Linked DNA regions of Homo sapiens: region 2 is linked to region 1. A link means that fine-mapping ties the variant in region 1 to the expression of a gene that starts in the linked region. Tissue or cell type: prefrontal cortex. Region 1 holds a variant in brackets; the other region holds the start of a gene. All regions are shown on one strand. Distances are from middle to middle.

Evidence for each region. PIP is the estimated chance that this variant, and not a neighbour inherited with it, causes the effect.
Region 2: SMAP2 starts here. The variant in region 1 is fine-mapped to the expression of SMAP2 in prefrontal cortex (GTEx, PIP above 0.99).

The regions. Positions count from the first base shown.
Region 1 is chr1:39,639,337-39,644,487 of GRCh38, forward strand. It overlaps HEYL (hes related family bHLH transcription factor with YRPW motif like), which reads right to left and starts at 307. Exons shown (of 5, transcript NM_014571.4): 1 at 210-307. The coding sequence starts at 289. RefSeq lists silencers at 84-153, 274-663. The variant C/T (reference allele first, on the strand shown) is at 3,053.
Region 2 is chr1:40,370,582-40,375,732 of GRCh38, forward strand. SMAP2 (small ArfGAP2) reads left to right here and starts at 3,146. Exons shown (of 10, transcript NM_022733.3): 1 at 3,146-3,642. The coding sequence starts at 3,540. RefSeq lists silencers at 2,889-3,208, 3,279-3,418 and an enhancer at 3,404-3,903.

The DNA.
Region 1 (5,151 bases):
CACGACCGAGAGCGCGCAGGATCCAGGCACTCGTGCGTGTAACGGCACGGCCCGCACACGCCCCCTACGCCGACACCTGTGGCCCCCGCGCTCACCTGCCTCTGCCCAGGCGGTGCTGGAGGGCTGGCCCGCCTGCTCGGCGAGCCCGTCGGGCCGACCCCCACCCCGCTCGCCCTCCGCCTGCTCGGTCCCCGCATCCCGGCCCTTACCTCAGCTGGCCCTCTTGGCCCACGTCGATGGGTCCGTCGGACTCCCCGTCGGAGCCGCTCGGCTCCTTGGGTCGCTTCATGGCGAACGCAGGCTGCCTGGTCTCAGCCCCGCGGCTAAGGCTCCCAGTCGGGAAGTCAGGCCCCGCCCCGGCCCCGCCCCGGCCCCGCCTCGGGGGCGCCGCCACCGCCCTTTCCCAGGGCCCTTTCCTGCGCCGCAGCTCCGGGCGCCCAGGCGCCCCCTCGCCCCCGCGGTGACGCGCCGCCGAGCCGTGGGAAGGCCCTAGGCGGTCGCCGCCTTCATCGACGGCTGGGAGGTCCGGCTCTGCTCCGCTGTCTCGGCTGCCGCGCGCTGGGTGGCCTTGGGCAGGTGCCCTGGGAGGCCCCGCGGGGAAGCCAGGAGTCCCCGTCTGTCCCTGGGTCGCCTGGGCGCTGCTGGCCTGTAGAGGCGCCGCTTCGATGCCCGGGATTCCGCAAGGGTCAACCCTGCGCGCTCCTGCCTCCTGGTGTTCTGGAGGCAGCAGACACATCAAGTTTGTCGAAGTTAGTCGTGGTGGTTGTGGCCTGATCCTCAGCAAGAATTCCCCAGCAGCAACTCCATAGGGGCCCAAAGCAAGTGGAATAGTGTGGTGGGGGCAAGGGGAAGACACTTACACTTCTGAGAGGTGGCAGTCACCCCCAAAAGGGACGGCTGAAGTTGTGGCCACCGCATCTGAGAAAGCTGGGCTCTGGCCGAGGTCCCTAAAGGCCTGGCGTGGTGGCAGTGGTGGGTTGTCCCTGGGAATCAGTTCCCAGTTCACCAGAGGTCGAGTTGTCCTGGGCGGCCAGGAGGCCAGGAAAGGGCTCCTTCTAGACGCTATGGCAGGGCCTCAAAGTGGGAGAAGGAGAGGAAAAGGGAAGATACCTTCCAGCCTCTCTTCCTGGGGCCTCTGCTTCTGGCAACCCATCAAACTGTTCACTCAGGGAGGGCTCTAGCTGCCCTGTCCTTAGGGGGACTTGTGGGAAGTTCTCAGATTCACCGGTCATCCTCAGGCGCCCAGTACCTCAGAGAAGCTCCTAAGGCTCCAAAGGAAGCTGCATGAGAGCATCCTGGAGCTGGACTTCTTGGGCAGGGAAGAGGAGATAGAGGAGGTCTTGGTGTGCTGGGTTAGATATGAGAGGTCTTTTCCTTTTTACCCGCCACCAGGTCAGGACCTGAGGGAAGCCACCCCTTCAAGTGGGAGAATCGGGTTGGTCATCTGAGAATAACTGTGCTTCCATCCCCACAGCAAGGCCTGCTTGCTGGGGGACACTTGATTACTTGATGGGAAAGAATGTTCCTGTGCCCCCGTCCACACACATCCACAGACACAACCATTTGGCCAGGTATGCAAACACATACACACGGACAGACTTACAAATATATACTGGTAGGCGCAACTGTCGTGAGCAATCAGTACCAGGAAGCCCTGGTGGTCGCCCCAGCCACAACTATGGACTCTCATTCCAAATGCCCTCAGCACTCACATCACTTCTGTGGGCACATGCCAGTCAGTGGAAACCTCAACTAACAGAGAAGTTGCACAATGTGTTATGCATTCCCTGGAAAGGCGGAAGTCAAGGAAGCCTCCCAGATAGCTGCCCTGTGTAATTGGCTGAGATAGCAAAGATTGGAAGAGGAGCAGATTTGCAGGGGAAGGTCAAGGGCCCCGTGATGGACGTTTCATGTGAGATGTCTTGGATCATCAAAATACAGTGCACAGTTAAATAGAGGGTATGGAGTTCAGAACAGAGGTCTCAGCTGGATATTAAATTTGGACGTCATTAGGTAATTGATGGCATTTAAAGCTATGGGAGCAGATGGGATCATTCAGAAAACGTGGATGGAGACAGAGCAGGGGCCTAGCTAAATACTTAACATTTGGTGAGCCCTTATTATAAAACCTGAAACTATTCTAAGTCTTTTGTAAATATTAACTCATTTAATCCTTGACAACCCTATAAAGTAGTAATATTATAATCCCCACTTTACAAGTGAGAAACAAAGGCTGAGAGGTAGACTAACTCCACCTAAGGCCAACAGGCAATAAATGGAAGGGCTGGAATTCAACAAGGCAGTTCAGTTCCAGAGCCAAAACATTAGGCTTTATTACTTTATACAGTACTCCCCCTTCTTTTAAAAATAAAGACAAGGATTCACTCTGTCACCAGGCTAGAGTGTAGTGGTGCCATCGTAGCTCACTGAAACCTTGAACTCCTTGGCTCAAGTGATCCTCCCACCTCAGCCTCCTGAATAGCTCAGACTACAGGGGCATACCACCATGCTCAGCTAATTAAAAAAACAACATTTTGCCAGGTGTGGTGGCTCACGCCTGTAATCTCAGCACTTTGGGAGGCTGAGGCAGGCGGATCACAAGGTCAGGAGATCGAGACCATCCTGCCTAACACGGTGAAACCCCATCTCTACTAAAAAATACAAAAAATTAGCCAGGCGTGGTGGCAGGCACCTGTAGTCCCACCTACTCGGGAGGCTGAGTCAGGAGAATGGCGTGAACCCGGGAGGCGGAGCTTGCAGTGAGCCAAGATGGCGCCACTGCACTCCAGCCTGGGCGACAGAGTAAGACTCCGTCTCAAAAAAAAAAAAAAAAAAAAAAAAATTTTTTTTGGTAGAGATGAGATCTCACTATGTTGCCCGGGCTGGTCTTCAACTCCTGGGGCCAAGCAATCTTCCCACCTTGGCCTCCCAAAGTGTTAAGATTACAGGAGTAAGCCACTACACCCCGTCAATTATACAGCTCTTAAACATTGTGATATATTATCCAGTACTGAGCCTAGAGCTATGCCATCAATATAATAGCCACGAACCC[C/T]CTATGGCTATTAAGTACTTGAAATGTGGCTGGTCTGAATTGCTGTATGTGCAGTGAGTATGAAATACACACCAGAATTTTTTTAAGTGTGAACTATCTCATTGATATTTTTTGTTATGATTACATGTTGCAATGATAATATTGTATAAATATTGGATGAAATAAAATACATTAGTAAAGTTAACTTCCCTTGTTTTATTTTTAGGTTTTTAAAAATGTGACTACTAGAAAATGTTAAACTGCATATTTGGCTCCCATGATATTCCTATTGGATGGTGCTAATCTGGTGCAGGGTTTCTTAACCTCAGGACTACTGGCATTTTGGGTCAGGTCATTCTTTATTGTGTAGGGCTGTTCTGTGGATTGTAGAATGGTAAGCAGCCTCCCTGGCCTCTATCCACTGGATGCCAGTTATACCCGCTCCAGTTGTGACCATCAGAAATATCTCCAGATAAAATACCAAATGTCCCTTGGGGGAGAAATCGCCCCCAGTTGGGAACCGCTAGTCTGGAGAAACTCCAAGATTTAAAGGTTGTAGAAGAGAAAGAGCTGCCAGAGAAGACTGAAAGGGCAGTGGAGGAGAGTGGGGTGTGTGTGGGGGGGTGTGGGCAGGAGCCAAAAGAGTGTTTCAAGGACTTGGTCATGATCCTTTTAAAATGCCAGTCAGATCATGTCACTTCCTGCTCAAAACCATCCACACGCTTCACATCCCATTTGAAATAAAATGCCAACTGCTTACCATGCCCTATACACAGAACAACTGTAATAACCTGGGCACCTTTGAGAGTGAAAGGAGGCAATACTAATAATCATGCCAGGGCAGTTCAGGGCACACTGGAGGTACCATCTCCTAAGCTCAGGCCCCTGCCCATCTCTCCAGCTTCATCCCCAACCACTTTCTGCCTTGTCCACTCACCCACGACAGCCTTCTTGCCATTTGTATTGGGCCATTCTCACATTGCAGGGGCCAGAGCTTAGGATGACAAACATATAGCAACACATATAATGTAATGTCAGTGATATTAATAGATGCTGTGAAATAAGATAAAGTGAGGTGGAGACATAGGGTGACTGGGGGATTGGTGGCTATTTTACTTAGGGGTCAGGAGATCGTCTCTGAGGATGAATCACTTATGCAGAGACCCGAATGGAGAGAGGGAATCTAAGAAGATCTGGGGAAGAGGATTCCAGGCAGAAGGAACAGCAAGTGGAAAGCCCTGAGGTAGGAACAAGCATGGAATATCAATAGAATGGTGATATGGTTTGGATCTGTGTCCCCATCCAAATCTCATGTTGAATTGTAATCCCCAATGTTGGTGGTGGAGCCTGGTGGGAGGTGAGGGAGGTGGATTTTTCATGAATGGTTTAGTCCCATCCCCTTGGTACTGTTCTCATGATAGTGAGTTTTCATGGATCTGGTGGTTTAAAGGTGTGTGGCACCTCCCCTGCTTCCTCTCTTGTTCCTGTTTTTGCCATGTGACGTGCCTGTTCCCCTTTTGCCTTCCACCATGACTGGAAGCTCCCTGAGGCCTCCCCAGAAGCAGATGCTACTGTGCTTCCTGTACAGCCTGCAGAACCGTGAGCCAATTAAACCTCTTTTCTTCATAAGTTACCCTGAAATACAGGGAGGTTAAATAACTTACCCAAGATCACACAGCTACTAAGTGGTAGAAATAGGATTTTAACCAAGCAGTCTGGCGCCAGAATTCATGCTGGTAACCACTGCAACCTGCATTAGAGCTGGGTGGACCAATCAGGAGACTCTTAAAATAGGCCAGGCAATAAGGACTGGATTCGAGTGATACTGGGTTCCTGTCTGGGTGACTGAATGGATGAAGGTGACAAGCACCAAGGGGAAACACTGGAGAAGGGAAGGAGCTCACTATGGCCATGCTGTTTGTGAGACCTAGCGCACACCCAGGAGGAGAACCCAGGGAGAGGTCTGGGCTGGAGGAGAGATTTGGTGGCTGAAGACATGGGATACATGACATATCTGTCCCAAGGAGCTAGTGCAGATCCAGAAGGGAGGAGAACCTAGGCTAGGACCCTGGGAAACAATAGCCAAAGATTCTCTGGGAAGAAGGAGGAGAATCCTGCGA
Region 2 (5,151 bases), 730 kb after region 1:
CATTCTTAGTAAACTATCACAAGAACAAAAAACCAAACACCGCATATTCTCACTCATAGGTGGGAATTGAACAATGAGATCACATGGACACAGGAAGGGGAATATCACACTCTGGGGACTGTGGTGGGGTAGGGGGAGGGGGGAGGGATAGCATTGGGAGATATACCTAATGCTAGATGACGAGTTAGTGGGTGCAGCGCACCAGCATGGCACATGTATACATATGTAACTAACCTGCACAATGTGCACATGTACCCTAAAACTTAAAGTATAATAAAAAAAAAAAAAAAAGAAAAGAAAATTCTATAACTGGCCAGGCGCGGTGGCTCATGCCAGTAATCCTAGTACTTTGGGAGGCTGAGGTGGGCGGGTCACGAGGTCAGGAGATTGAGACCATCCTGGCTAACAGGGTGAAACCCTGCCTCTATTAAAATACAAAAAATTAGCCAGGAGTGGTGGCACGTGCCTGTAGTCCTAGCTACTTGGGAGGCTGAGGCAGGAGAATTGCTTGAACCTGGGAGGCGGAGGTTGCAGTGAGCCGAGATCGCACCACTGCACTCCAGCCTGGCGACAGAGCGAGACTCGGTCTCAAAAAAAAAAATTTTATAACTAATGTGGAAACAGTTTTATGATAAGATAACATGTGCATGATGGAACAGAGTGAACATTTTTGCAAGACTAGTCAAAGCAAAATTCAAGACTTCAAAAAAAAAAATGTGTACTTGGGAGGAGCAGTTTGCTTTGTTTATATCCTCAGACCCTGGGCTATGCACTCACTTTACTCTGCTATTAGTAATGATAATAAAAAGAGCTAATACTTGATGTATCTGCTAGGATAGGCTAGCTTATACAGTGGTAAACAAACAAAACTCAATGGCAACACAATGCTTATTTCTTGCTTATGCTAAGTTATCCTCTATGGGCTGGCAGAGAGCTCTTGTTTATCAGCTACACAGAAATCCAGGCTAATAGAGCAACCAACATCTTCAGCATCAATAGTTGCCATGCCAGAGGGAAAGAGAAGCACAAGAGGCTCAAAGCAACAAATAAATGCTTCAGAGACAAAGTAATCCATCCTTTCTGCTCAAACTCATTGGTCTTTCCCAATCACTTGAAGGCCAGGAAATAAAATCCTACCATGTGCTCAGAAGGCAAAACGCCAGAAATATTTAGTGAAGAGCGCTAATTGTCTATCATTCACTATCTACCAAGGGCTGTTCTAATTATATTACAGGCATTATCTCAGCTAAGCCTCATAATAATCTTGTGAAATAGGTACTATTAATGTTATCATCATTCCCATTCTATAGATGAAATAACTGAGGCACCAAGAGGCTAAGTAACCTGCTCAAAGTCACACAGATAATAGGTGGTAAAAGCTGAAGATTTAAACTTAAGCATTCTTGCCCCAGAGTCTGTGTGCTTAACCACAAAGCCATGAGATCTCTCACTAGGTGGGAACAATTTGAGAAACACTGCCATAGGCAATGGAGAGCCACTAAAGGATTTTTTAAGCAGGAAGTGTGAGTCCATCAGAATTGGCATTTAAAAGCTCCCTCTAGAGAGCACGGTGAAGGATTAATTTAACCAGATTTAGACTAAGGCAGGAAGGCTATTTGCAGAGTGAGGAGATGAAGATGGGGAGGGCTTGAACTAAGGTACAATCACCACTCACCGCAATTAACTGGGTTTTGTTGTTGTTGTTGTTGTTTGAGACAGGGTAACGGGGTACATTGGGGGTTGGAGGGGTGGTTCTTACTGTGTTGCCCAGGCTGGATTCCAACTCCTGGGCTCAAGTGATGCTCTGGCTCTGGCATCCTGAGTAGCTAGGACTACAGGTATGTGCCACCACACCCAGTAACTAGTTAATCTTGACTGTCTATTTCAACTGAAAAATGGTTATGGTAATACCTACTTGGATGGGTTTTCTGAGGAAAAACACCCCAATGAACTTGTGTGTTTTTAAAAGTCAAGTCCCCTAGGCATGGCTAGAAGGGAAGAGGCTTAGCCAGAAAATTTAATTGTTGTGATTAATAAAGTAATAGAAATGTTTAGTTTTCCTCTGATGAGATGAAAGCTTTGAGGGGATCCTGGTCTTGGGAGAAAGTAAAGAAATGGAGGAGAGGGTTTCACCAGAGTTTAGATAACTCTTAGCATCTGCTTACTATCTTCCCTGATTAATTATTTCCATGGCAGCCAGAGTGACCTTTTAAAACCACAAATCGGATCATGCTGTTTCCCTCTCCCCTAGTACAGTGCCTGATACTTAGAAATTTCTCAGTAACATCGTGCTCAGTGAATGAATGAATGAATGAGTGAATGAAAACACAAGCCAGATGGCAGGTGGATCCCTAAGGAAAAGGACAGCCAATGAGAAATTATCTGTAGCAACGGTGGCTTTGGATGATGATGTTTAATAATCATTTTTAAGGAGTTGCCTGTTGTGTGCTATGCTTTAATCACTGTCCCCCACCCTTCCCAAATAACGTTCAGTAAAAGTCTGCCACAAAAAACTCGCTGTTTTGTGAGAATTTAAGAAATGGAAGAAGAAACAAACTGTCTGGGCACCAGGCCAAACAATATCCAAAAAGGCAGGAGTCACAGAGGAGAGCTAATGAGTATTAGTGGGAGCAGGTATTCCAAGTGAGAGGTGACCAGAGTCCTCTGAAAATGTGGGGAGGGGGTGACGTTCCTATATCCTGGGTTAGGGGCTTGGACTCTTATATTTGGCTGTTGGAAAAAACAAGCTGGAGGACTTTGGGGTATCAACAACCCTCAGGTTACATAAGGATGATCATAGGGTCGTTGTGAGGATTATGTTGGGATAGTTCATGCAAAGCGCTTAACACAGTGCCTAGCGCATAGTAAGAGCTCAGTAAATGTTAGTTGTTGTCTTCCTTCACTTTCTTCCATTCCCTCCACTCCCTTTCTACCAGGCTCCATTCATTCTCTTCCAAGGACACGCAGGGGGCGTGCCCACCCCTTCCCTCCGCCCCCACCCAAGGCCCGCCCCCCGCTTCTCCACGGATTGGTTCCCGAGAGGCGGAGCTGAAGGAAGAGCCCAGTGCGGCGCGGTGGGGGCGGGGCGCATGCGCGAGCTGGGCAGGGTGGAGGTGGGGAGGAAGAGCTGCCGGAAGTAGGCGGTGGAGGTGGTAGCGGAGCTGACGGCAGCTGCCAGGGAAACCGAGGCGCGGGACGCAAGGCCAGCAGACAGGCCGGCCAGAGGGTCATCTGCGTCCGGCACCCAGGAGGCTCGTGGTCCGCCTTTGCCTGGGCTGAGGGTCTCTGGCCCCGCAGCCTCTCTTGGAGGCGGGCCTGTCCCTAAGCCCGCCAAGGGGCGCCGCGCCGAGGGGCTGCGGAGTGGGGGACGGACGCCCCCGACCCGGGAAGGGGCGTCCGGCGGGGCCGGAGGAGAGGGCTCTCCCCGCTCAGGAGGTGCCCCTGGGCGGGGGACCGGGAGTCCTCAACCCCGGACTGAGGCAGGGGTCTCTGGGGGCGAGGAGGGCGCGTCGCCCTCTGCCCCCGCCGGCACCCTGGCCATGACAGGCAAGTCGGTGAAGGACGTGGATCGGTACCAGGCTGTCCTGGCCAACCTGCTGCTGGAGGAGGATAACAAGTTTTGTGCAGATTGCCAGTCTAAAGGTAGCGCATCCCACCTGGCGGGCCAGGGGTCCAGCCGCGCCGGGGTGGTGGGGGTGGGCTGCGTGAAGAGGCGGTTTCTGAAGCTTAGGCCGCCCAACTCGGCTTATAAGTGGTAACGCGTGCTGCGCTTGCAGTGAGCCTACTGGGCTTTCTGCAGCTGGGGGATTGGTATGGGTAGAGCTTGCGAGGGCGAGTCTGTGTGTGTCGGGGAGGGTGGAGGTGATGGTGCGGGTGGAAGTTGCCTGGCGTGTTCAGGTGAGAATGTCTGTATTTGAGGGCTCTGAATGAGTTCTGGGCCGGCTGTCCAGAGAGAGCTCCCAGCATGTCACTTGCAAAGCTGGGGATGAACTGCATTGCGTGCGTGCGTGCGTGCGTGTGTGTGTGTGTGTGTGTGTGTGTGTGAGAGAGAGAGAGAGAGAATGACGAGGAGGAGGAGGAGGGAAGTGAGATGGCGGAAAGGAAAACTGCTTAAATGATTTTTAAAGGTGGTGATTTTTGCTTCCTGCTATTTGGTTAGCAACTCCTGTCATTTTGCAGCCTTGCTAAGATCTGACAAGAGTGCTTAGGTGACTTTATTCTTCTGGATGTGTGCAGTGGGAAACTGCCTTATGCAGTGACACAGTGCGGATTTCTAGGCAGTGTAGCCCTGGCTTGTAGAGTGCGTTGGAGGCCTATGTATGAGTGGTGGCAGAAACTAGCCGATTATGCCTGTAGTGCAGGATCCGTTTAATCAGTGGAGAGAGAAAGATGAATTCGATGAATTCATTGCTTCCATGGCGATTACACTTCTAAAGGTGAAATATGATCATTGTAAATTGGCAGAACCATTTAGTCTTTGTTTTCTGTGCCCTAGAAGATTCATGATTTGATACAATTAAAAGTCAGTACAATAGGAAATCTTGGTTATTAGTGAAATGTTGGCACTTGACATTTATACAAGCTTCTATGAATCTTTTTTTCCTGTATTTTCTAATTCTTTTGGCATATAATTGGAGGATTGGGAAAATTATTTTCCCTTTGGTTGGGTCGAAATGGATAGTTATATTTTGGGGGCGACAATTTACTTTTGTTCATAATGCAGTGGATTTGCCATGGTTGTTTGCCGTACAGCGTAGTGGGCATATACTATAAAACAAAGATTCAGTTATATTCGTATTTATCTATTTTGAGAAAGGAAGGACATATTTAATTGATGCTTTCACTTAATTACCTTTTATTTTTGAAGAATAAGGTTATAAAAGGAGAACAGGGGAGGGATACATAGACACCTAGTAATGTATTTTAGTGACCTCTACCAACAGATAAATGGAATGTGCCATTAGGAAAACAAATTCCTAGACTTCTTTCCTGAATTTTTGCATTAGCAATAATTCATTTTAAAAAGTATTTTAGAATCAATTTATGTTGAGTAGGTTAGCTTCTTGATTCTTGTTACATCTTCTGTTAGGTCTATTGGAAGATTTGGTTTATTTTAGGAGTGTATCTTGGCTTTATTCAAATTCCCTTATG